4 linked regions of the Homo sapiens genome follow. The protein of the gene in region 4 purifies or fractionates together with the protein of the main gene of each other region. This does not show direct contact. Each region holds a gene or a part of one and is shown on either strand. Other genes may lie near its edges.

Region 1 (7,177 bases), on a different chromosome or scaffold from region 4:
GCTGGACAAGCCAAGGATGGGACCTAGTTGAGAGGAGGGCTCAGAGGAACCTAACTAAAGTTTGTTCAAGGGTGGAGTTTTTATAAATACCCACGGGAATTTCCTCAGCTTCCTAAAGGAATTGGTAGACCCACAGAACATGTAAGGCATCAGGGGGAGCATCTACATATGCTCCCAGCCTCTCCCAGTGTTGGTGGCTGCTTCCGCCTCCTCATAGCAGCTGCTCCTTGGCCTTCTGTTCAGTTCTGGGTCACGTTGTGCAGGCACCATCTCCAATCAGGTCTTGTCCATTACCTTAATTTAGAGGCTTGGGATAAAGTCTGAGTTACTGGTTTGAGCTAGGATAAGTGGATGCTTGACGATGGATGTGATCATAATGATTACTTACAGTAACACAGGCAGGCTATGGTGTTGGTCGGAAGGATGGCTGGACTTATAAGCATCCCAAACAGGCAGAAGAGGCTGTTAGGCCATTAGGAAAAGGGAGAACACTTTGGGTGAGATCTCATCACGCTAACATCAACAAAGTGGAAAGAAGGTGGGGCCACACTAGCTAAGGCAACACCACAAGAAAATGTTATTTCCCTCTGCAATTAGCACCATTACAGACCATATGAAGTACAATCAAGCACACATAACGGGAGCCAAAATAATGCTTTCATGAATTTTGTAAACTTAGTTACAGAGTCTCTGTGTAACCAATGGTAATTCAAAATATGAGCTAATGAATTATTAATGGTTTAATGGACTTGGTGAAAGTAGGATTCGATTTGGTTTTTTGGTATGTATGCGAAAATCAAAATGTCAAAGTAAGAAATCTGAAAATAAATAATTGGATTTAAAGGTTGTCTCTTACATCATAGAAGAGATTAATTTGTACGAAACACAAATACTTGTTTCTAATTTAGTTCTTGTCCTCTCTGTCCTCTAGGGCACACCTTTCCCTCACCTTGACACCTCACATTTCCCACCTCATTCTAACAGCTAAATTAGTGTCTATAAGGAATTTTCCAGACCTTCCGGGTTTCATCAACTCTATCTCCAATTCAATCCTCGTCTACACACACAGTTCAGGGGAGGCAAGATAGCGGCTACATTTTCTGTTCTTGACCTTCAGCTCCAAGGGACTGTTTCCCGGATGCTTCGGACCGAGTGTTTGGTAGTGTCTGGGGAGGACTCGGTCAGGGAGCCCCCTCCTTTCACCCTGGTACTAGGAGCTGAAGAGGCGAGATGCCAGGCGAACGGCTGAAGGCAGAGGTCTTTTTACCCCCATCTCCCTTGTCTCCCACACAAGTTGTAGGGCCCCTCCACCGTGTCTGGTCCTGAATTGGGAATGCCAGCTCCCAGCGCGGCGAGGCCCAGGTCCGGTCCTAGGTGAGTTTTTCTCTCCGGCTGGAAGACTCGACGCCGTGGATACCAGGGACCCGAGCCCTCCGGGGCTGCTGGCTTTGGAGGGATTTCCAGACGTTGCAGTCGGGGTGAGCGGAGAGACTAAGAAGTACAGGGGACTAGAGAAAGCAGATGAGGGTGAATTGTCTCATCAAGATGGGGGATAGGGAAAAGGGGCGAGAAGTAACCCGGGGCGCAAGGTCCACAGCGAAAAAAAAAAAAAAAAACAAACAAAAAAACAAACAAAAGAAACACGCCCGAGACCAAGGCTCAGCCACTTTACACGCAGGACTTGGTTGTGGCAGCGAGGAGGGCTTCGAACCTAGGAAATTTTGAGGAAGCGTTTGTCTCCATCACAGGAATTGGGTTTCCACGTTGCTGCTGGAGCTTTTCGTAAGTCGATAAGAGCAGCATCTTTCTCTTTGTCTCCAAACCCGTGAATTTGATACGCTTTGAAAGCGTTCTTCTAGGCGAAAGAGCTTGGTACTTTCATGCTTGGATAGAAGGGGAGAGTTCAATACCGTGCACGCGACCACAAAGTTGTTTTCGACGAGAATTCGATGGGAAGCGGAGGAACGAATTTTTCCCACATTCAGAGGCCAAGCCAGGAACTGTAAAACGTTCACCTTTGAAAGGTCCCACCGAGATTCGAACTCGGATTGCTGGATTCAAAGTCCAGAGTGCTAACCATTACACCATGGGACCAACCACAAGGGTACAGTAGGTAAGTATAGTCGTGGTTAAATACCTCCTTGATAATAAACTTTCTAGTTCCGATCCGAAAGAGTTAGGTCAGGCTTCAGTGAGACTCACGCTGACAGGAAAGCTGACGCTTTGCTGCTGAAGAAGGAGTAACTGTCAAAATAAAATTCAGGGAGATCTCTTCACTCTTTCCTGCGCTTTTGTTGGGAGCATAAATTAGCTTCCAGAAATCAACCGGGGCAGATTTGTGAGGTCTGAAACTTAACAATTTAGAAAGTCCTCTTTAAGAAAAAGAACAGCTGTTATCAACATAAAATTATGGGTACTCTAAGGCCTGTATGATGTATCTGAGGATAAGCTGGAGTAGGGAGAGGAAGCTGTCTTAACTAATTTTCACTATACTAGCATACTTTTGCAAATCTTACAAAATATGTTTCATACAGAGCAACCTCTTCCCAAGGCCTTGGAAAGCACAGCGCAAGGAAAGGATCTTAACACACTTTAGCGAGACTCACGATAAACATCCCTCTGGGGTGCAGATCTTTTAGCAATATCTATCAAAATAGTCTCTTCTACAGCCACTAAAAAGAATGGGATAGACATGTAACACATGTTGGCTTGGCAGTTTCTGGGGGAGGATTTAAGTTTAAAACAAACCAAAAAAGCCCAGTAACTTGGTGAATTGTAGTCTAGTATGATTTAAGTTTTGCAAATTATAATGAGTTATAATTGTGACTCAGTTATATTTGTACATAATAATATTGTACTCAATTTTGTATGTACATTTTAAAAATAGGTTGGAGGTACATACAACAAACTCGGCATCAATTTTTCTGAGGAATGGAACTGAGGATGAAGAAACTTCACTTCTTGCCACGTTGACTTTTTAAATATTTGACTTTTTTTATAAGTGTCTATCACTGTTGTAGTAATTAACAAATGCAAATCTACAAAACAAAACAAACAAAACAGTAAGGCTCGTCAGTAAAGGACTTAGAAGTCATGCTTACTCCATGTTAACTGCCTACTGTGCTCAGCATGGCAGAGATCACTGCCTTGCAGAATGAGAAAAAGGTAGTAGAATCCCTGATTGCAAAGGATAGTTAGGGGGGGAAACAAAAGATAAGTTCAGCACGTTAAAAGTGACTGGGAAAATGATCTTTTCAGGGTTGGATGACACAGGCACACAGACAAAAATTTTATACAGAATTTTACTCAAGACCATTCACGGACTCTAAGCGTAAGATTTCTTTTTTATTTAGAGATTTCTAAAAGAGATGTTCTGATTATTCAAAGACTCTCTACTCAGAAATGCCAAAATGTGAGAAATCAACATGAGGACCACAGCAGAAGGAAACAGAGAATGGAGAAGGGAACCAGGCAGCAATTCAACAAATATTCCTTGGGCATCTCTGCGCTACCAGAGGTATGGAGGAACCCAGTGACTGCTTGAAAAGAATGTTCTGGTTACTCCACTCCAGTGATTCGCTAGGCGCTGATCAGCCGTCCAGATTTTGTTAGATTTCTGGGACCAGTTTCCCACAGTTGTTTAGTCACGGCTCTGTGCTCCGTGACTAAACAACTGAGGCTCATTCTCGGTGGTCTTGGTTTTCTAATCCGTAAAATGGAAACAATGGACTAACTCTTACATTTCTTTTTAAGTCTGATTTAGGGTGAAAGGGAAAGGTGAAAGTGGCCCGAAATTAACGAGGAAAGGCGGGGGACGATCCTACAGATTCGCTGACGTGGTAGTCCTTAGGGATGCTCCTCTCCATTTTGTTTCAGGTCGCTGCGGTGAGCACCACGGGTCTGAGTGCCAGCGATGGTTTATCACGGTGACAGGAAAACACAGACCAGCAGCATCTACTCCAGCACTACTCACACTGTGGAACTCTTTTCACCGTGATGCCAGATAACTAGGTAATTCCGGAGTTAATTCTCCGTCGTTTCCAGAGTACTTGCCTCCCCAGAATTACTGGTACCGTAGGTGTTTGCACAACCAGTGAGAAGACGGCACCACCTGGAATCCTAGAGCGGACCGGAAGTGAGCGTGGCTCACCGGGCCCGGCCGGAACCTACGGGCACAGCTGCGGGTGTGTCTGCGGAACCTCCACCTGAGCTGTAGAGTGTTTCCCTCGACCCACTAGTCTGGGTTCCACAGGGTCTGAGCTCCTCAGAGGTGGGAGCTGCGGCCGAGGGAAGGGTGCATGTGCGCGGCGACAATCGGGCCTCTTCCCCAGGCAGCTTGTGAGCCCCTCTCCCTCTCCGCCCTCGCCCAGGCTGCTCCGATCTTCGTTTCCTTGCCTAGGCTCATACACCCAGGCTTTATTTAGGGCCAAAGTATCCGTCATAACCTCGGTTTTCTGTCTCGCAAGTATCTTGCCGCTCAATTTGTGACCCTGAAGCTTTAGTGAGTCGCTCTGTGCTCACTATTTCTGGTCTTTTCAGAGGATGGCTTCACTTTCAATGGAATTGCCCGAGTAACTGCCCTGTGTTGTCACGTAAACAAGTCCTTTTAAACTGAGTCTGTAGTTGTCCTGTGTTGAGTGTTTTCTTATATCAAAAACTTTCCTGACCAAGAACAAAAAAGGAGCTCAAGTAAAATCACCCATTTGCCTAGACCCCAACTGGAGAGAACCTTTGCCTGAGCTGTCTAAGCTCGGGATGGAAGCAGTCTCTAGGGTCTTCCCAGCCTTGGCTGGCCAGGCTCCAGAAGAACAAGGGGAGATTATCAAAGTAAAGGTTAAAGAAGAAGACCACACTTGGGATCAGGAATCAGCCCTACGTAGGAATTTGTCTTATACCAGGGAACTCTCTCGTCAGCGCTTCAGGCAGTTCTGCTATCAGGAGACACCTGGGCCCAGGGAGGCTCTGAGTCAACTGCGGGAACTTTGCCGTCAGTGGCTGAACCCAGAGATACATACCAAGGAGCAGATCCTGGAATTGTTGGTGCTGGAGCAGTTCCTGACCATCCTGCCTGAGGAGCTCCAGTCTTGGGTGCGGGAGCATAATCCTGAGAGTGGAGAAGAGGTGGTGACTTTGCTGGAAGATTTGGAGAGGGAGCTTGATGAACCTAGACAGCAGGTGAGAAATTGGAGGTGCCATCTTCTGTGGAGAATTTGGGTGCATGGATCCAGAATGGAGTAATGGGAGTAATTTCGCGCTGGTGGTTGGAAACCCTGGTTTGGGGCATTATTTCTTATTTGATCACTGGTGTAGATGAATAGATGCGTGCATATGAGATAACAGTTTTTGTGTATGATACAAATAATTAAATGATTTAACCAAATGGAAAAGCTTGATCTATTTTTTACCAGTAGAAAATATATTTTATGTAGTGACTATGAGATTAAAGAAATATACAATAGTAAATTTTTTTTAAAAAATTACTGTCTTTTGAAGCTATCTAGGCTCTGTTACTAATTAGCTGTGTAACCTTGGGCATATTACACCTTCTCTGGGACATTAATGTCTTCATCTGTACAATGAAAATACTAATTGCATGATTTCCTTGGTTCTTTTCAGTATCTAGAGTTGGTATGTAAAATGTTTTGAGCTCAAAATTATTTTTAGAAGAATTTTAAAAGCTTTTTGCCATTACAGTGGAGTTGTTTCTAAAGGAGTATATTTGCCTTCTTTGACAGTAATTTTAGAACATTGTGGATATTGCCAGACATTCTTATATTTTTTAGTGATACTATTCATACATTTATCTGAACTCTTTCAGAATGTGAACCCTTTATGTATACAGTCTGATCTGTTAAAAACGCATGTTTCTGGAATGCAAAATCTTTTAAAATGAGGTCAGTATGCCAGAAATGAGTCAGTATAATGCTGAAATTGTGTAAGCTCATGTATGAGTTTTCCCAGCAAGTTGATGTTTGGGGCCACCAGGTGGGAGTAGCTGAATTCAGAGTATCTGATGTAGCTGAGCACAGCAAGTCCTGAATACATACAGTACTGTACATAATTCCCATTTGCCCCCACATCCTTCCTCTGGCTGTCTTGGAAGCACTTATTTACATTGTTCCCTCCCATCTTTGTGTATTTTTTGCTAAAGTTTTTTGTATTCCAGAAAAGGAGCAAGCAGAGGGTTTTGCAAGTGCCATAGAAGTGTGCTTGTGATAAAATTTCTGCTAGTGAGTATAAAAGAAGAAAAGCTTTAACAATTGAAGACAAGTTTGAAACTATACAGTGTTTTGAAAGAAAAGAAACTGTGAGATTGGTCATGCAACTGGCATAAAGGAGTAAATGTATGTACAATTAGAGACAATGATGGGAAAAATAAAATTATCTAGCTGGAACAACTGCCAGTGTTATGAAATCTGTTGGAACAAGGAATAAGGAAATGGAGGAAATGGAGCATTTGTTAAGTGTGTGGATTGAATACCAAACAAGGAAGCAATCCAATGCAGTCTTTCTCAGAGTTAAAGAAAATACCTTCACAATGTATGGAGACATTAAGAAAAAAAGATGGAAGTCCCGCAGAAGTGCCTTCATTTAGTGGAAGTAGTGGCTGGTTTAGTATCTTCAAGAACTACTGTACTTTCCACAGTGTTAAACTGTCTGTGCAGACGAGGCTGTAAGTGCAGATGAAGAAGCTGCAAAGACATTTTCCCCTCATTAAGAAATTAGATTGATAAGGAAGGCCATCCCCTGGCTCAGATTTTTACTTTTTATGAAACCAGTCTCTATTGGAAGCAGATGCCCTCAAGGGGATATGTGGAGAATTTGGATGCATTGATCCAGAATGGAGTAAGCAGGACTGGAAGTACTCTAGAAACACACTGTGGGGTTTAAGGCTACAAAGGATCAACTGATGGTGATGCTGGGTGCAAATGCCAGTGGAATTTTAAAGCTAAAGCCTGTGATTATCATTCTGCCAATCTATAAGCTTTAAAATGAATTGTAAAGACTAGCCTTGGTGCCTACTACAGGTCTAGCAAGAGAGACTAGATGACAGGGCAGATATTTTCTGATCTTTCGGGTGATTTTTTTGTAGATTAAAAAAAAATAAAACATTGCAAGAGAAAAAAATTGTCTTTTAAAATTCTTATAATTCTCAGTGATACACCAAGCCACCCTC
Region 2 (7,588 bases), on a different chromosome or scaffold from region 4:
TGCCAGTGAATTCTGTCCAGAACAGTGTCAAATGCTCACCTGCACATTAGAATCATTTGGGGGCTTTTGAAAAACCCCAGTGCCAGCCAGGCATGGTGGCTCATGCCTGTAATCCCAGCACACTGGGAGACTGAGGTAGGTGGAATGCTTGAGCTTAGGAGTTCAAGACCAGCCTGGGCAACATGGTGAAATCCTGTCTCTACAAAATATACAAAAATTAGCTGGGCGTGGTGGCGCACACCTGTCATCCTAGCTACTTGGGAGGCTGCAGCACAAGAATTGCTTGAACCTGGGAGGTGGAGGTTGCAGTAAGCCGAGATCACACCACTGCACTCCAGCCTGGGTGACAGAGTGAGACTCTGTCTCAAAAAAAAAAAAAAAAAAAAGTAATTTACAGAAAAATAAGAAAGAAAAACCCCAGTGACTAGCTTCCATATTGGACTCATTAAAACCAGACTCTCTAGGTGGAGCCTGGATGTCAGTGTTTGAGAAGCTCCAGATGACTCTAATGCTTGGTCAGGGTTGAAACTCCTGCTGCCTCATTAGATCTCTGTCCCGAGACCTTTTGTTCCAGTCTCTCCTGGGGAAGGGTCCACCCTGACCTCTGGCCTTTCATTCTTTCCCCTATCCCAGCCCTCTGTCCAAGCCCACAGCTCCTTGAGCTTCCTCAGTGTCCATGTTCACCCTTACATCCATTAAAGCCCCCTCATCCTAGGCTGGGCACAGTGGCTCATGCCTGTAATCCCAGAACTTTGGAAGGCTGAGGCGGGTGGATCACTTGAGATTAGGAGTTCAAGACCAGCCTGGCCAACATGGTGAAACTCCATCTCTGCTAAAAATACAAAATTAGCCAGGCATGGTGGTGCGTGCCTGTAGTCCCAGCTACTTAGGAGGCTGAGGCAGGAGAATTGCTGGAACCCGGGAGGCAGAGGTTGCAGTGAGCCGAGATGGCACTACTGCACTCTAGCCTGGGCAACAGAGGAAGAATCTGTCACACACACACACACACACACACACACACACACACACACACAAGCCCCCTTATCCTTCCAGGCCCGTATCAAGCCCCAGCTGTCCAAGGAAACTTCCAGGACATTAAGTGGCCTCCGCCTTCTCTGGGAGTTCTCCCAGCCCTCTCCCCTGGGAGCACATACTTTAGCCTGTTTTATAGCATAAACTGGCTGCTTCACATCTCAACTGGAGCAAGGACACACCTGATGCCTCTGTTCCTCAAGCAGCCCAGCAAAGAGTCTATTCCATTCCACTCAACGTCTGTGCTGGGGGCTTGGCACTGGGGGTGACATGCACAGAGACAAAGAATAGCCCATGTTTTATGGTTTAGCTGCAGGGTGCAGTGAACAAGGGAGCCACCATACCCAGTGAAACCGCAGACGAACTTCCTCTAAGTGGGGAATGTCACAGAATCACAGATGTCAGCATTAGAAAGTGCTAAAGTTGAAGAGGGGAGCTGGGGCCGGGGGGGAGGAATAAAACAAAAAAAAGAAAGCGCTAAAGTTCTTATCTAGTCCTGCTCTGCCTGCACCGCCCTACACATACCCATACACGCATAGTGCAGAAATCTCTTCTATAGCATCCCTTACCATCCTCTTCTTGAAGGCTTCCAGTGATGGGAAACTCACCACCTTACCAAACAGCCTCTTCTACACCTCTTAAAGCCTTTACTTTTCCCCACTCTGCCATAGTGTGGTGAGTTATGGACCCGCCTACCTCCACTACTACACTGTAGGGTCCTTTAGGGCAGGAAGTGTATTTTGCCTCTGGATCTAGCTGGAACCTCATGCAGGTGCTCAAAGAATGCATTTGATTAACTGGACCTGCTGGGCTCTGATTATTAGACTGGGGTGGCACCTAAGGGATAGCCCAGGATTTCAAAAGGCTGGGACAGGCTGGAGCAGCCCCAGGAGGCAGAGAGCAGGGGCTAGGGGTCCCAGACTGCCATGGGGCTGGGGGAGGGGAGGACGCAAGTCCTGCTGGCTGTCCCATGGTCCTGACTTAGGCTGTCTTTGAGGACACACTGGGGGACCTCGGAGAGGAGGTCACCGTTACACACACCTTTAAGGAAAGACTTGACAGCCATCAGAGGGACAAAAATCCTGCCGGGGTCCAGTGGTACCTTTGCCTTCCTCAGACCCTGATTCCACTGACCCCCAATAGGTCTCTTCCCTTCACAGTCCCTGCTTGCCCCTAGGTGTGAAATGAAACAGCACCTCCACTTCTCCTGGTGGAGGTAGGTGCCCACCCTCGAAACCAAACTGAATCTCCCAGCCTGGGACATGGCATTCTCAGAATCTAGGTCCAGAGGCCTCATTTGGGGATTCCAAATGGTTTTTCCCCTGATACCAAATAGGTCTCCTACCCTTCCCCAGGGTCAACCACTTCCTCCCTCCCCACCTCCTACCTCAGACAGTCCACCTAGACCCTCAGCCAAGGTCTTCCAGAGTTTGCAAAATAATCAAATGTGCCACTTGCATTTGAATTCAAATGGCTAGGACTGCCCTGCCCCCTCCCCAAGCCACTCCCACCCAAATAGCATCACACCACAGTCCTGTCTTGGGGACAGGCAGCTTCTAATCTGATTTCACCTCCAGTCTGGCTGAGGGCCTTCAGGAGCAGTGTGGTGGCCTCCGTCAGGAGGTCTGGCACAGCTGGGACAAGCCCTGACCCAAGAGTTCCTCCATGTGCAGCATGGGCACAGCCCACCCATCCTCCCGGGCAGCTTCACAGCTGCCATCAGATCAGGTGCCTGGAGCCTGGCATAAGGCTGGCAGGACAGCAGGCTGGGGGAACTCCACCCTGGCACAATGTGGTATCCAGAAATGTGGGTCTCTGTTCCCAGGCCACCACAGCCAGCCCTCGCCTGCCCACCCAGGAGGGTACCAGCCAGCCGCGCTGGCAGCCACCCTGCCACCTTCACCTTTCAACACTCCTACTTTCCTTTCTTCCTCCTACCTCTGCTTCGTAGGTTCGTCTTCCTTCCAGCCTGCCCCACCCGGCTTCTCACTTCCCTCTTACTTCTCTGGCTGCCCCAACCACCAGCCCCACCCACCAGCCCCACCCCTGGGCTCCTTCCCCAGCCGGTGTGGAGGCGATGTCCCCCGACAGGGAGGGGCAGGCAGTGCTGGGAGGCCAGCAGGCCTGAAGCAGAAGAGCAGTCACTGGGGTGGGCAGTGGGTATGCCAGGCCGTCTCCTCAGAGGGGCACACAGGGAGGCTGGAGGTCCACACAGCCCCACCACAGTGGCCTCAGCCCGCTGCAGGTCACAGCCAAGGCAAATCAGGGAGGGCATCTCTGAGTCTGAGACCAGCAAGGAAAGCCATGTTCTCCATTCAGGGCCTGGGGCAGGCGCGGCACAGCCCCCACCGCTGCTGGGTTAGTCACATTTTCTGGGCAGGGTCACTGGCTTCACATTACTTTTTCCTCCTCCCTCAGTTTGTCTTTCTCCTTGCCCTGAATGCAAGTATTTGATTTTTTTTAAGATCAGTTTTTTGGTTTTTTTTGTTTTTTTTTTTTTCCTGAGACAGGGTTCACTGTCACGCAAGCTGGAGTGCCGTGGCATTATCACCGCTAACCGCAGCCTTGAACTCCTGGGCTCAAGCGATCCTCCTGCCTCAGCCTCCTGAGCAGCTGACACCACAGGCCTGCACCAACATGCCCGACTAATTTTTTTATTTTTTCTGGAGACAGAGTCTTGCTACTCAGGCTGGTCTAGAACTCCTGAACTGAAGCAATCCTCCCACTTTGGCCTCCCAAAGTGCTGGGATTACAGGCGTGGGCTACTGCACCTGGCTAAGCTCAGTTCTCAGGGAATGGCTGAGGCCATAAAACATTCTTCACCATCTTCCGCATGCCATGCTGATGCCTCTCAGGTCTCTACCCTTTGGTCTGCTTCTCATTCACCAGATGTTTATCATCATGACTTCTGGGCCCTGGGCCCTCTGAGAGACAGCCCATCCTGGGTTGACCCAGGGCAACTATCCTGCCTACATCACAGTCACTAGACCCTAGAGCTTGTCTCCTCCAACTCGCTGGCTTTCTGGAGGACACCGAGGTCCTGAGAGCACAAGAGACTGCCCACAAACACACAGGGAGTGGAAGCCCCTGCAAGGGAGGCTCCCATTCCCTTCTGAATCCCTGGGGGAAGGATGAGCGGACTCAGTATGAGGCTCCAGGAGAAAGTGAGCACCCAGTTATGCAGCCACACAAGCGTAGTTCCTCTGCCCAGAACCTAGCCGGCCTGTCCTGGAAAGGTATTGGTCAGCAGGCTGGCTTGAGACAAGGCTCCAGGTTCAGGGTCAAGGCCTGGGGACCCTGGAGCAAAATCTGGAACAAATCTTCCTAATTAGCAGACCTTCAAACAAAACCTCATTATTTGACTGCGTGGGAAAAGTCTGGAGAAAATACAGTACTGGATAGGCTGGGCATGGTGGCTGTCTCCGGTAATCCCAGCACTTTGGGAGACTGAGGCAGGCAGATTACCTGAGGTCAGGAGTTCAAGACCAGCCTGGCCAACATGGTGAAACCCTGTCTCTACTAAAAATACAAAAATTAGCCGGGCATGGTCATGGGTGCCTGTAATCCTAGCTACTGGAGCGACTGAGGCAGAAGAATCACTTGAACCCAGGAGGCGGAGGCTGCAGAGAGCCGAGATGGCGCCACTGCACTCCAGCCTGGGAGACAAAGCAAGACTCCATCTCAAAAAAAAAAAAAGCAATACTGGATGAATGTTTCTCATTGAAACGAAATTGATAAAATTTCACTAGAGCAAGACGGGAAGTTAAATCTTCTCCCCAAAGAACATGGCCTGTAGCTAGCATCCAAGTGTCTCCATGGCCAAACTGCCAGGCTTAAAAATAGGGTAATATGGGCCGGGCGCGGTGGCTCACGCCTGTAATCCCAGCACTTTGGGAGGCCAAGGCGGGTGGATCATGAGGTCAGGAGTTCGAGACCAGCCTGGCCAGCATGGTTAAACCGCCATCTCTACTAAAGACACAAAAAATTAGCCGGGGGTGGTGGCGCATGCCTGTAATCTCAGCTATTCAGGAGGCTGAGGCAGGAGAATCGCTTGAACCCGGGAGGCAGAGGTTGCAGTGAGCCGAGATTGCGCCATTGCACTCCAGCCTGGGTGACTGGGCAAGACTCAGTCTCAAAAAATAATAATAATAACAATAATAATAGGGTAGTTTGGTGGAGGGTGGGAGGAGGGAGAGATTCAGGAAAATAACTAATGGGTACTAGGCTTAATACCGGGGAGACAAAATAATCTGTACAACAAAGCCCCATGACACGAGTTTACCTATATAACAAACATGCACATGTACCCCTGAACTTAAAAGTTTAAAAAAGAAAAAAAAGGATAGTCTGGGTGAGAATCCCAGTAGGGCCTAGTCCCCACAAAACCACAGGCTGGGCGGTTAACCTGGTAGAGTGATAAGAGCTAGACAATTTGGCTCCTTACTAGCTGTGCAAGTGACTTAACCTCCTGGAGCCTCCCTGTGCCCCAATCTGTAACACGTGCATACAGTTAAATGTGAAGATGAAATGAGATCCTATGATTAATGAGCAAATAATACATGCTCGATAAACCCAGACTTCTTTCTCTTCCCTTTAGTTTGCAATGTGCCATCAGCACCTGAGGTAGAAATGTGCCTGGCCACTCCCCTAGCTCCCGGTTTCTCCACAGGAGGAAAGAAAGTTAAACCACAGAGCACTCTCCTATTTCCATCCCCAGCCCCAGCGCTGGAAAGCTTCATAGATTTTGGTCACAACAGCGCATACCTTGGGTGGCTCTTAAGTTCTGGACTCTGTGACCCACGGAGGGAACAAGGATCAATGGGAATCACTGTTCCTCACACTCAGCTGTCTAGGCTAAAGCCTCTCCTATCACCACAGGAAAAAAGGGGAGAGGTTTACACATTAACAGCGAAACAACTGGCTGGGCGCAGTGGCTCACGCCTGTAATCCCAACACTCTGGGAGGCCGTGGCGGGCGGATCACCTGAGGTCAGAAGTTCGAGACCAGCCTGACCAACGTGGCGAAACCCCATCTCTACTAATAATACAAAAATTAGCTGGGCGTGGTGGCGGGCGCCTATAATCTCAGCTACTCGGGAGGCTAAGGCAGGAGAATCGCTTGAACCCGGGAGGCGGAGGTTGCGGTGAGCCGAGATCTCGCCACTGCACTCCAGCCTGGGCAATAAAAACAAAACTCCGTCTCAAAAAACAAACAACAACAACAGCGAAACAAAAGGGCCGGTCGCTCAGCCTAGGACTCTCGGGAGCGGCTAGGAACTCAATGCACATGCTAATGAGTTATCTGGTAACGACGCTCTAGAACTAGTTTTTTTACCAGACGCACAGTGTTCCTACCCTTGTGGTCTCCCCTGAGCACTACTGCTTAGTTTGTCCCAAATGAAGTAAAATAAAGTATTTCTTTAGCACGGACCCACCCTCTCCCGCCTTTTCTTACAGGAAGCCAGGAGACGGCGCGCCCCTAAGAGAGGACCCCGGCTGTGGGAGAAGAGGAGGGAGCGGGGCGCCCCCGAACCGGCTAAGCCCGTTCGACCCCTACATGGGGAGCCCAGGTCCCCGGCGACCGGACCCCGAAGCGCACTACTTGCCTGCCAACGCCTTGCTCCGAGGCCCTGGGCGCTGTCTCAGCCGCCCCCCGCCCCCTGGAGGTGCGCGGCCAGGAGCCGCCCCCGGTGAGTCAGAGGGAGGGGCCCGGCCGGTCTGAGCTGGCGGGGAGCCCCTATGGGAGGCTGGGGCGCCCGAAAGGGTCCTAGAATTGGGCGTGGGAAGGAGGGTATAGGGGAAGCTAAGGACAAGCTTACTGTGCTGTAAACTTTGCGAGAGAATTGCAGTGTTCACTTCCATTCAATCGTTAGGCCCCCGGCCTCAATCACCCTGTGAACAGCTACTGTTCTGTGAGAGCCTACTATGTGCTTGGTGCGTCCTCACATCTACTATCATTATTCCTGCTGGAAACATGAAGTCTTTGGGAGGCTCAGAGAGGGTAACTAACTTGTCCAGAGTGTCACATTGCTAGTTCAGTAGCAGAACTAAGATTTTTTTTTTTTTTTTTGAGACAGGGTCTCACTCTGTCGCGGCACCTGGAGTGCGGTGCTGTGATCACAGCTCACTACAGCCTCAACCTCCCAGGCTCAAGCAATCCTCCAGCCTCAGCCTCCTGAGTAGCTGGGACTGCAGGCATATGCCACCACGCCCAGCTAAACTTTTTTTTTTTTTTGGAGAGACTGTGTCTCACTCTATTGCCCAGGTTGGTCTCAAACTCCTGGGCTCAAGTGATCCTCCTGCTTTGGCCTCCCAAAGTGCTGGCATTATAGGCATGAGCCACCGCACCCAACTGCTGAACCAGGATTCTAACCCAGGCTGATCTGACCTGCAACACCTGACCCTTCTCTTCTTTATTCAGAGGAAAACAGGCCAGCAAGCATCTGCACCAGGAGGCCAGGCCTTCTGGAAATGTGTTGGACAGCGATGGGTCCACACTTCCGCCTTGGCTCCTGAATGTGGCATAGCCAACCCATGAGAGATGTCAGTTGACAAAG
Region 3 (6,927 bases), on a different chromosome or scaffold from region 4:
AGTAAGCTGCCTAAACAGGGAAAAGTCACCGTCCTTATGGAGCTTCTACTCTAGCTTTTATACTGAAATACCTTTTGGTCAGTAATCGTGTGTGTGTGTATGCATGTGTGCATTTTGAGGCTTTTATTTATAAAAGAAAACATAATATGCCTGGAAGCTAATAGGTGCTCATTTAAGTGTGTGATCTCTGGCTGCTTAGAAGGCCTATATAGGAAACTCAACCCTAATTAAAGAAAAAAGTTATGTGAAATTACATGAACACACTGGTGCAGGACCATGTAAATATTAGCAGCATGGTTAGGAGTGAGATTCTGTCTCAAAAAACAAAGAAAAAAAAAAGGCTGGGTGCGGTGGCTCACACCTGTAATCCTAGCACTTTGGGAGGCCAAGGTGGGCGAATCACCTGAGGTCAAGAGTTTGAGACCAGCCTGGTCAACATGGTGAAACCCCGTCTCTACTAAAAATACAAAAATTAGCCAGGCATGGTAGCACATACCTGTAATCCCAGCTACTCAGGAGGCTGAGGCAGAAGAACCACTTGAACCCAGGAGGCAGAGTTTACAGTGAGCTGAAATTGCATCACTGCACTCCAACCTGGGTGACAGAGCAAGACTCTGTCTCAAAAAAAAAAAAAAAAAAGAAGAAGATAAAGTATATGGGAAAGCACAAGACTTGGAATAGTTAAAATAACTTTGAAAAAGAAAAAAAGTGGCCGGGCGCAGTGGCTCATGCCTGTAATCCCAGCACTTTGGGAGGCCAAGGCGGGTGGATCATGAGGTCAGGAGATCGAGACCATCCTGGCTAACATGGTGAAACCCTGTCTCTACTAAAAATACAAAAAAAAAAAAAAAAAAAAAAATTAGCTGGGCATGGTGGCGGGCGCCTGTAGTCCCAGCTATTCGGGAGGCTGAGGCAGGAGAATGGCGTGAACCCGGGAGGTGGAGCTTGCGGTGAGCCGAGATCGCGCCACTGCGCTCCAGCCTGGGCAACTGAGCAAGACTCTGTCTCAAAAAAAAAAAAAAAAAAAAAAAAAGTGGGAGGAATAACTGCACCTGATGTTGTTACTCTGTAGCCGTGGTAACCCAATGTGGTATTGGCAGACACATAGATCAGTGGAACGGAATCGAGAACCCGGAAATAGACCTGCAAAGATATTCCTGACTGATTTTTTAAGGAGCAAAAGCTATTCAATGCAGGAAAGATAGCCTTTTCCAGATGGTGCAAGAACAATTGGCCATCTGTGGTGTAATAAAACCTACATTTCATCTTTTTTCTTTTTTTTTTTAGATGGAGTTTTGCTCTTTTGCCCAGGCTGGAGTGCAGTGGTGCGATCTCAACTCACTGCAGCCCCTGCCTTCCAGTTTCAAGCTGCCTCAGCCTCTCGAGCAGCTGCAATTACAGGCACCTGCCACCATGCCTGGCTAATTTTTGTATTTTTAGTAGAGCCAGGGTTTCACCATGTTGACCTCGTGATCCGCCCGCTGGCCTCCTAGAGTGCTGGGATTACAGGCATGAGCCACCGCGCCTGGCCCTTACATTTGATCTTTATCCCTGGTTCCTGGCACAGAGCTAAAAGCCTTGGAATTTTGTGAATAATAGGAATAGGGTTTGCAATTCATAAGGAGCCCGTTTCGACCACACCTGAGTTTATGCTAATGAGGTGACTCCAGTGGGACCCATAGATATCTTCAGGATGGGGATAGTCACCTTAAAGAAGGTATGGACCCTCTCTCTGCCCCACGATTGAGAGAGCTGGGTTGGTGAACACATCTGAGTGCTGGGAGGATGGCTCACCCAGACGGTACATGGATGCACTGCACCTTCAGTGCCCCTGACCAGACCTTAGCTGTGCATCTCTTCCATTTGGCAGTTCCTGAGTTATATCCATTAAAATAAACTGGAAAGACTGGGCATGGTGGCTCATGCCTGTAATCCCAGCACTTTGGGAGGCCATGGTGGGAGGATTGCTTGAGCCCGGGGGTCTGAGACCAGCCTTAGCATTATAGTGAGACCCCATCTCTTAAAAAAAAAAATTAGCTGGGTATGGTAGCGCACACCTGTAGTTCCAGCTACTCGGGAGGCTGAGGTGAGGATCACTTGAGCCTGGAAGGTCAAGGCTGCAGTGATTCATGATGGCACCACTGCACTCTAGCCTCAGTGACAGAGTGAGACCTTGTCTCAAAAAAAAAAAAAACATAGCTTTCAAAACTGAGCAATTTTTTTAAAAATTAGAAAATGGGCAAAAGATACGAACAGATACTTTAATGAAGAGGGTATACAAATGCCAAAAAAATCATTAAAGTGTGCTCAAACTTGTTAGCAATTAAGGGAAATGCAAATTGAAACCACAATGATATATCAGTACATACCTATCAGAATGGCCAAAATAAAAAATAGCAAAACACAAATGCTGATAAAAATGTGAAGTGGATTCACACATTCATTGGTGGTGGGAGTGTAAAATGGTCCAGCTACTCTGCATGAGAGTGTGGCAGCTTCTTACAACACTAATAAGCACGTGTTCATTGTGTGACCTAGAAACTGCACTCTTGGGCTTTTATCCCAGAAAAGTGAAAACTTACGTTCACAGAAAAATCTGTACACGAATGTTCATAGCAGCTTTATTTTTAATAGCAAAATACTTAAAACGATCCTAATATCTCTCAGTGGGAGAAGGTTTAAACTGCTATATACCATAGAATACTACTTCTCAATAAAATGGAATGAACTGTTGATACATACTACTTCAATGCCTCTCAAAGGAATTATGTTCAGTGAAAAAGCCAATCTGAAGAGGCCACATACTGTATGATCCCACTTATATGACACTGTGAAGGCAAAATTGTAGCAGTGGACTACTTAGATTAGCTGTTCCTGGGGTTATGGGTGGGGAGGGAGTGACTACCAAGAGGCAGCAGGAGGATTTTTGGGCAGTGGAGCTATTCTTTGTCCCGAGTTTGTTGGTGGATATGAGTTAAAATTCATAAAACTGAATACCAAAATGTGTGGTGTATGTAAATTTAAAATATATAAACTGTTCAGATATACATTTTAAAAATCAGTTCACACAAAAACGACCAAAATGGCATCCTCATAAGCGCCTCTATCTGGAAAACTGAAATGGGAAGCAGCTCCTGGCCCTATCCTGCCTTCCAGGGGGGCTACATTTATATGGGGCTTTGCCAAAGCCCTCACCCCAGCTGCCACTCACATTTCCCTCATTTCAGCAGCTCCTGAATCCCTGGGGTGGGTAATCTTTGAGTTCTATCCACTCCTTGAAACTGTAGAACCCATTTTAGCGCATCAGTGTCTCTGGGTCTCCACCTCTTGTCTCCCCAGTACTGGGTCTGCTGGTCCCTGTCTCTGTATCTCTGTCCAGATCTGTCTCAGCCTCGAGTGCTCCTTTTCTCTGGGTCTCTCTCTTTTCCTGAGCCTGAGCTGGTCTCTTTCTTTTCTTGAGCCCATGCTGGTCTTTCCCTTTCTTGATCCTGGGCTGGTCTCCCTCCTTTCTTAACCGTGAGCTGGTCTCTCCCTTTCCGTGTCCGACTCTGTACATCTCTGTTTCGGGGACCCCAGGGCGTCTTGGTCTGCCCCCGAGCGTCTGTGGGCCTTCATGCTTCTCTCCCTCCCGGTCTGCGCGTCTTTTTGTCTTTGTTTCTCCGTTTCTCACCGTCTTTGTTTCTCCGGGTCTCTGGCTGTCAGGGGTCTATTATTTACCCGCTTGTTTACTTCGTTGCCATGGTGCCCAAAATGACGCAGGCGCCGGAGTGGGCGGGACGCCGGGAGGCCACACTCGCGTCTGATTGGCCATGCGCACTGTCACCTGTCACGGCTCCCTTGCTCGCCCCGGTGCGCGGCACAGCCTCGCGGCATTGTGGGAGTCGTAGTCCGCGGTGAGGCCCAGTGCGCAGGCGCAGTTTGCCGGCCGCCATCGCGCACTGGGGCTCCGGGCGGCTGGGACCGGCCTGGGGTAGCTGCGCAGCAGGTGGGTCGGTCCCGGGGATGCAGCGCGGGGGTCAGAGAGCGACCCCAACAGGGTAGACGGTGAGGACGCCTCAGTGGGCAGCGTTAGGGAAAGGGGCCAGGGTGTTCCCGGGGTTGGGGTGCGAGCCCCCGCTGTGCGTCCAGGAGGCCGAGGGTCTGGCATCCCTTCGCGTGGAGTGCGGGGCAGGGGCCGGGTCCCCCCGGAGGTGGCTGAGATCCAGATCGGTGAGGGGCCCTGCAGGCAGGTAGGGAACTAGTGCAACCCCCACCCCGTGTAGGCTCGTGGAGGGGAGGCGCTTAGGGCACCCTGTGGGTGGGAGAACAGGAAGGGGCGGCTCCTGATGGGGGAGAGATGAGGGAGGGGGAGGCTCCTGATGGGGGAGAAAGGGGGGAGGGGAAGGCTCCTGAGGGGGGCGAAAAGGGGGAGGGGGAGGCTCCTGAGTGGGGAAGAGAAGGGAGGGGGAGGCTCCTGAAGGGAAGAGGAGGGGAGGAAGTGGGGGCTGAGGGTGTGAGGATGTGAGGGTGTCCGTGGTGGGGGGACGCTGGGCAGGCTGTGGCCCCAGGGGCTGGAGCAGGGAAGGGATGGAGGGTGCGGGGACCAAAGGGGTGCCTAGAATGGGCATTGTCTCTGCTGCCCCCACCCTTGGAATATCTCGCCTCTCCCCAGTCACCTGGGGGTGGGTTCTGTTTGAGTTAGGTGTCTGCGCCCACCCCGGAGACCTCTCTCGTGGAAGAGGCAAGAGTGGGTGTACTGGCTTCGGTCCTGACCCAGGGGGTTGGGGTGGGGGCCTGACTCACCCTCCCATCACTCCTTCCCCATTTCCTTTCTCTCACCCTCCTGGGCTCCTTCCTTTTCCCAATCCCCCTCTACCCCCGTCCAGACTATCTGGCTTTCCCTGCTCTTGCTCCTTCCTCTCCTGTCTTCTCTCTCCCTGCTACCTTCCCTCCCCGCTTCCCCCATTTCTGTCTGCCCTCCTTCCACTTTCCCATATATTCGCCTGTGTCCTTGCTGACTCCTGGGCGAGGCTGAGTGGCACAGTCACTTGGTTCCATGTCACCTCCTCGGTTCCATTTCACTTCCCCCATCCCATCATGTCCTGCGGATGGTTTCCTGCCCTGGAGTCAGAGCGGGACCACGTGTCGCATCGAGTTGCTGTTTTCTGTGCATGATGCTTGAATCTGTGACTTCCTGGGTATTTCTGGCCTCGGGTTTTCGGGGAGCCTAGGCCAGTTGCGCAGGACATCTCTCTGGTTCTGTCTGTCCTGGCGAGTGGATCAGGGACCACAAAAGGCAGCTGAGATGTGAACGACGACCCTTACTCCATGTTTTTTCATTCTTTTAAAAGCACTTTTACCCCTTTTTATAATGAGTAAGTGATCTGTGGATGAAGCCAGGGCAGACCCTGGGAATATCCGGCGACCCATCAACAACCACATCCCATGCATTGAGCTTCCCTGGCTGATCCTCAGGCCTGTGGCTGTGGGGTGGTTTGCTAGACCCTGCCGATGAGTGTGGTGGGATGGAGAGCTGCGATGAATATTCCTCAGGTGGCCAGGGCTGGGCCCACGGAGGGCCAAACCAGGCTTGAGCTCTGCTCAGCCCAGGATGAAGGGGATTTGCTGCAGGACTCTGGAGACCCACCAGGCTTGGGACCCCTCAGCTCAGCCACCCCTCACCCACCGTGGAGCTCTCTGCCTCAGCTTCTGTATTCCAGGCCTCTGGGTGCAGCAAAGCCTACAGGACTGGCTCAAGACTTGTGCAGATTGCTTCATTTGCTGAGGCTGGGGGGCTGGGCTCCAGGAAAATCCCATCTGAGGCAAATCCTGGACAGTCCCAAGATTAGGGGAGGGAGGTTTGCCCAGTGACCAAGCCAGACTCCAACGAGGTGTGGCCTCATTCAAGCAGGCTGTGGCAGGAAAGGGTCCCAGTGGTATCTCTATTTTGTTTGTTTGTGAGACACGGGCTCATTCTGTCGCCCAGGCTGGAGTGCAGTGGCCAATCACAGCCTCCAACTCCTGGGCTCAAGCAGTCCTCCTGCTTAAGACTCCCCAGGCTCTGAGATTATAGATGTACGCTGCCGCACCTGCCCCGGTGAGATCTCTGAGAGTCCTCTTGACAGTGTGGCCAGGAATGGGGCTGAAGGAGGCAAGAAGACACAGGGCCAGAGATTTCTGGAGGCTCTTGAGATGGCCTCATCCTCCTGGCTGTGAGCATCAGGGTCCCAGTAGGAAGGGAGATGAACAGGGAGAGGCTGTTTTCACAGGAGGCAGCAGCTTCCTTGGAGTTGGGCGTTTTAGGAGACCCCTGGTTCCATGGAAGCTTCTGCTTTGCAGGTGAATGGAGGAAGTGGAGGCAGAGGTGGCTTCCCAGAGAGGCTCACAACTTGTAATGCTGAGGGGGAAGGGCACAGAGGCGAGGAGCTCCCGTTCCTGTCCCCAGGGGCTGACATGTGTCCCCCACTGTCTTGGCCAGTGACCCAGCCGGAGGGTGTCCCGTCCTCCCCACGTCATCCCGCCCCTGCCAATGGCCGAGGACCCTTGCTCATTCTACCTAGACCCCGATGCCTCCACCATGCTCAGAGCTGGGAAGTTGGAGCAGGAGGAGAGGGGCTGGGGGAGCTGGCTGGGATCTGCCCACTGTGGAGGCCATGAGGGCTAGAGGGGAGGGCCGGCAGGAGGCCTCTTAAAGGGCAGGCTTATGGGCCTGGACGGGGAAGGATGAGTGGCAGCGTCACTTTGCAGGTGGGGTCCCAGCCTTAGTGATTGCCTGCCTCGTGCCTCTATTTCCCACTTGCACCTTGGGGCTGCATGTGGTTCCTACCCCTCTGGGATTGTGAGGTTCTGATGAGGGAAGGTTCTGTGCACACACATTATGGAGCTCACAGTTTGTTTTGTGGAGACAGGTTCTCTGCAAGGTGAACAAGCCTCTGGCGTCCTAAGAAA
Region 4 (5,527 bases):
CATAATTATCCTTGTGTTATTTGGATTTCAGACACCTCTGGTTTCCTAGCACAGGGATCCTGAGGGACATATCAAAGTAGATGCATAGGGACCAGCAGACTGAGATGCCACTCCTCCCTCCAGGGGGCCCCATGGAACGCAGGGCCCTCACTGGCCCTGGGGACTGGGTGACGTCAGGGGTGAGCCTCTCGTGATTGGCTCCCTCACCCTGCGTAAGATCAAAGGGACAAAAGGACAGCCCCGACACCCGGAGCCACTGTGGCTCCGGCCAGTTGCACCGGCCACTGAGGCCATGGCTCCTGGGGTTGTGGACATGCCTGAAGAGCCACCCATGTCTGAAGGACCACAGGGAACAATGAAAAGAAGACACCTGCCCAGCACAAGGGGCTTGAGACCTTGGCCCCAATCTCCCTGACAACCTGTGTCTCGATGACTTCCCTTCCTTTTCTCCCCCATGCTTTTGGTGTAACCAGGAAGAAGCCAGAAGAATCGAAAACACATTCCTTTTTTGGCAGTTTAATATAATTTATTAACTTATCAGGCCATTCCATCCCAAAATATGATTTGACCAGCTTTAAGAGATGTACATAACAGCACAAAAAAAAAAAAAATAACAGAAAATGGGGAAGTGAAAGCAAAGCCAAATAAAATGAAGCCAGGGATTGGTCCACAAATTGCAAAACAAAAGGGCCTGTTCAGGTTTTAGAATTGGACATTAAATCCCTGAGGCTCCTGATGGACAAAATTTAATCCATTTTAATTTCACAGTCCCTAAGAGGGAATTAAAATCAATTACAAATGTCTCATTTCCATAAATTAGTTGGTCGAGAAAGGTCCCTGGAGATGACACCTGTGCTTCTCCAGGACACACCAACCGGGTTTAGCGTGAGCTCCTGCCCCTACTACTGATGCTGGCGCTCCAGCCTAGCTGGCCTTACCTCTCCATCTATTTCTGGGAAACTTCAGGAACAGGGTTGGGTTGGCGACCTCATACGTGGTCATGAACAAGCCCTTTCCTCTCAAGTGCTGTCCACAGAGGGATTCTCTCCTGCCTTGCCCCCTGGGTGAAGTCTGCAGTGGAGGGTTTCAAAGTGTCTCACCACCACTTCCTGCTGGTCCCCAGTGCCTATAAATATGCGGAAGCTTCTCTGTGGTCCACGAATCCCCCCAAAGCACTGAAGCCAAGTGTGTTCTATGTGGAAGGAGAAGACTCCTTTCTCCTTTGTGCCACATTTGTCACCTGCCACCAAGTTAGGGCTCCCTGAGCCCCAGTGACTCGAGATTCTAGTAGTCACAACTCTGCCAGCCTGGGCCTGTGGCTCCTCTCCTGCTTGGGCTCAGATACATCTGTCATGCTGCTCCAGGACCAGCTTAGAGACTGATTCTTGTTTTCCTGATCCCCCTTCCCGTGGCCCTCGCCCTCTAGGGGGCACAATTTTTATGGGATATTTTTCTACAATGAAAATGTAAAAAAAAAAAAAAAAGTGACTTTAGAAATAAGTATCATGTAATAGCAGGCATGATCAGAAGCATCTTTACACACAAAAAGAATCACCAACAGCGCCCTCATTAGAAAATCAATGTCTATGTGACTCCCTAGTCGACTATAGCATGTTTAGGTAAAATTATCTAATTGTATTCTTCTTTTTACTCTTCTAATGCTCTTGACTTAACCAAGTGGCTCTTAAAACAAAGAAGCTCTCAGCTTTGAGAAGTGGGGGAACCAAACACACACTGAAAAGAACTGGGACCTCTCAAACTCTCTGTCTCTTCCTCCAAGCAGCATAAAATGGGGTTACTGGGGTGCAGGCTCCTGTAGGGTTCCTAACAGAGACTAGGTGAGAGATGCGGCACACGGAGGTGAGGAGAAAGGTCACCCACTCAGCTGCAGCATGGGGTGGGGGAAGCAACAATAAGGTAAGGAAGGAACCTGCCTTTGCCCCCCGAAAACATGCATTTATTTGGAGGTAAGTGCAGGCTTGCTGAAAGTCAGAGGGAGGGCAAAATGATGCTAAAGACATGCTAGCAGTAATAGTGATGCTGGGAGTGTGAAGAAACAGCCAGGAGCTGTGGGGGAAAAGGATCCAGTGTCTACCATCCCAGGCCTCCAGGCCCATTTCAACTCCCTCCTCTCCTGTAAAGCCTTCCCTGCACTCCCACTGCATGGAACACTAACCCCTTGTAGCAGATTGGGGCAGGGGCTTGAGATTGGTGTTTGCTATTAACAGGTGGGGGAGCTGAGCAATGCCCAAATGGAGGATGGGATCAAAACTGAGGTTAAGGGGAGCTTTGGGAGGCTGAGGTGGGAGGATCGCTTGAGGCCAGGAGTTCAAGACCAGCCTGGGCAACACAAGACCCCCATCTCCCCCCCAAAAAAAATGGGGTAAGGGAATATTTTGAATGATTAATTTTGACTTTAGATATTGACTTCATTCAGAAAGAGACCTCTCAGGCAGCTGGGTAACTCCAGCCCAACTGGAAATGCTCTTAGAAGGGAGAAAGTATTGGCAGAACTGAGTCCAAGATGAGTCCAATGGGCAGGTCTCTCCAGGCACGTGCAGGGGAGGCTTGGATGGGAGTCACTGAGTGTGTACATCAATGCACGTGCTGAATGGGCAGGCCAAGAGCCCCATGATGGGTGATGGTAGACACCGGGGCTTTGAGATGCCCAGGAGTCACCCAAGCACAGCTGGTTGGCAGGCAGCTGGGATCCTAAGAGGAGAGGCCACAGCAGGACACAGATCTGGAAGTCATTAGCATCTACACAGAAGAAAAGAGAGAAAGAAAGGAAAAGAAAAAAAGAAGAGAAAGGGAAACAGAGTGAATGAAGAAGCAAGCCTAGGACAGAACTCTGGAGTACAAAGACCCAGAACAGCCTGGGTGAGGCAAGTTCACCTGCAACACCCACACCCACTCCAGACATCACTGCCTTCATTACTTCAAAACTGCACCCCTGTCCCCAAAGGGTGTTACTCCCCTACAGAAAGTGACTCAATTCTTTTCTGCAGCCCGAAAGCAGAGAGCTATCCCCACTGGGGGCCCCAGAACAAGATGAGGCAGGACGGACTACCCAGAGCGCCTGACTACATTATTTAGCATGGAGGGACCCTAGCTGCTTTACTCGGCTTCTGGGAGGAGGCTACAGTGGACAATAAGGCCAAGGCAGCCATGACCATGAGTTCAGCTGCTGAGGTCAAGGCCTTAGAAAAAACCGAGTATCTGAAAAAGTCTTGGCCCCTCCTTTCCCTGCCCCTACCTTTGGGTCTGCTGCCTCTGGGGGTCTGAGGAATGGGAGGCCTAAGGTCCTTTAGGTACCTTTTTGTCCCTTCAGAGGAGCCAATGCCCTTCTTGAGGTGGAGGGTGAAGAAATCAAGGGGAGGCAGCCATCTGGGGAGACGATCCTGCCTTTAGCAGCTCACATGATGTAACACCCTCCCAGGGCAGCATTTGCTGGTTTGGTTTTCCATAACCAGGGTCTGACCTGTGGCCAGGAAGGCTGAGAAACTGTCCACCCATTCTGCAGAGTGAATCTACTTCCCAAGAGCAGAATCACGCTAGCAAAGCTCAGGGTGTGTAAAACCAGATGTCAGTTTATCTGAGCAGCACAGACCTACTGGAGGGCGCCTGGGTGCCCAGCAAGCTCTTGGGTAGACAGCAAGCCTGGAACACTGAAGCCCCCTGAAAGAGTGCTTCTTCCAAAGGAAGTCAGGTAGACAAGGAGGAAGGGACCACCTGGGCCATTTTCTCACCTGGCCCACACTGGCCTTGCTTTCATGACTGAACCTCTATTAAGATTCATGAGACAAGAATGGCAGATAATAAACATCAAAACTGTTCACTAAAGATATGAGACACTAACACACTACCAAACCCAGGGGAAAGGGTGACCAAGTGGAGAGAGGACTACCACCTCACATCCACACAGAGCTCAGCTTGACTTCCACAGTGAGGGCTCCAGAAAACTCAGGGCTACATGAAGAATTCAGGGGTCAGTAACAAAGAAGACAGGGTCCAGAACATGATGGTAGTGGGTGGGAGTGGGGAATGGTCTAGATCTCCTTTGAGGGCCATCTTCCTCTCCATTCAGCACTATCAAGTAGCTCTGTCCTAGGCCCAATATTTGAAACTGAAATTCTTCCTTTCTCATTAGTTTAACTACTTCGCATACACAGATCTCTAGTCCTAGCCTCTCCCCTAGCTGCTAGCCGACATCCAAATGCATAGCATCACCATGATTTCCCTTAAGCACCTCAAGTTCTAGACATACCAAACTAAACTTCTCATCTTCTGCCCTCCTGCTCTATCAGCCTCTCCTCCTTGTGCTCCCAATTCTGAATGAGGACATGCTCTACCCAGTCACCAAAGGCATTCTAGCTTTCCTCTGATGTCCTCCCCTCTGCCTCTGAGACCTTTCCCATTCATTCCCTCCTCCTCAGTGTCACCACTGCTCTAGTTCAGACCCTAGCCTTTAGCTGAAATACCACAACAGTGTCCCAAAAGGCCATCCTAATTGCAGCATGTCCAAGTTCCATTCAGCTGTCAGATTTCAACCATGCACATCTGAACATTGCCCCGGGCCTGGTGTTGACACTCCATTCACATGTGAGGTCCTCAGTGACCTTGCTCCAGCACTCCTCTAATATCAGCTCCCTGTTCCCAACCTCCCATCATACAACCCCACCCTGAATCCATGCTATTCCACACAACAGTGCCTTTCCCTGGAATTCCCTCCCTCTCCCTCACCTCAGGATCCTTCCTCTCAGCTCACATTACTAGACAATATCACTGTATTACTGCAGTTACTGACATCTGCTGACTTCTATCCAGGGTTCATCCCATGACCCCTGCCCCGCAGAGATAACGTGGGCCAGAAAAGGTAAACTGGGAGGGAGTTGACGGTGATCCTAGTGGGGCTGGTTCTTGGGAAAGGAGGTTCTGAAGCAGGGGAAGGGGTTAAGAAGGGATATCACTCTGTGGGAGTAGCAAATCTCTCCACTGGCTTCCTCACATGTTAATAAAAGTTCCATTCTTCAAGGCTGCTTCACATCCACTATCTGATAGGTACTTCCCCAGCCCATGAACCAAGCAGGTTATGAATACATCCTAGTGTCATAAGAGGATGGCAGGAGGGGGATTTTCCTTTAAAGTCCTATGGAAACCGAAGTCCTTGGTCAACAGTTTTAAACCCTTCTAAGGAGAAACTCTGGAGGCCAAAGTGCTGCAAATGTTAAAACCATCCTATGTGAACCTTTCTAACTTAGCCTGTCCATGTGGGAGGTGAGTCTTAAGGGTCAACATACAGAAAGCCCTGGGCAGGCCTGGGACAGGATGGCTCAGGGTAAAATTGTGCCAAGAACCTGGTACACAGAACAGTGGTCAAGGCCCTCTCAGTAGATGACCATATACACCAGCACCTCCCACCTCAGTCTTGGCATGGGGACCAAGAACAAAGCTTCTGCTTGCCAAAAGGAAAAGCCAGACAGACAAAAATGTAGGGACCCCAGGCTTCTGTTAGGGTTAACCTATG

Evidence for each region.
Region 1: the proteins of ZSCAN20 (region 4) and SCAND3 purify together in Homo sapiens (affinity purification with mass spectrometry; 3 studies listed by BioGRID and IntAct, with this or other methods). This does not show direct contact.
Region 2: the proteins of ZSCAN20 (region 4) and CAPG purify together in Homo sapiens (affinity purification with mass spectrometry; 3 studies listed by BioGRID and IntAct, with this or other methods). This does not show direct contact.
Region 3: the proteins of ZSCAN20 (region 4) and ZSCAN18 purify together in Homo sapiens (affinity purification with mass spectrometry; 3 studies listed by BioGRID and IntAct, with this or other methods). This does not show direct contact.

Annotation. Positions count from the first base shown.
Region 1 is NC_000006.12:28,584,296-28,591,472, reverse strand, and holds the start of SCAND3 (SCAN domain-containing protein 3), read left to right. Parts: upstream 1-4,174; 5' UTR 4,175-4,755; coding exon 4,756-5,175; intron 5,176-7,177.
Region 2 is NC_000002.12:85,407,347-85,414,934, forward strand, and holds the start of CAPG (macrophage-capping protein), read right to left. Parts: upstream 3,021-7,588; 5' UTR 2,971-3,020; intron 2,964-2,970; exon of another isoform or gene 2,936-2,963; intron 2,467-2,935; exon of another isoform or gene 1,215-2,466; intron 1-1,214. UniProt on the Homo sapiens protein: Calcium-sensitive protein which reversibly blocks the barbed ends of actin filaments but does not sever preformed actin filaments. May play an important role in macrophage function.
Region 3 is NC_000019.10:58,095,232-58,102,158, reverse strand, and holds the start of ZSCAN18 (zinc finger and SCAN domain-containing protein 18), read left to right. Parts: upstream 1-3,927; 5' UTR 3,928-3,985; exon of another isoform or gene 3,986-4,229; intron 4,230-6,927. UniProt on the Homo sapiens protein: May be involved in transcriptional regulation.
Region 4 is NC_000001.11:33,496,621-33,502,147, reverse strand, and holds the end of ZSCAN20 (zinc finger and SCAN domain-containing protein 20), read right to left. Parts: 3' UTR 505-5,527; downstream 1-504. UniProt on the Homo sapiens protein: May be involved in transcriptional regulation.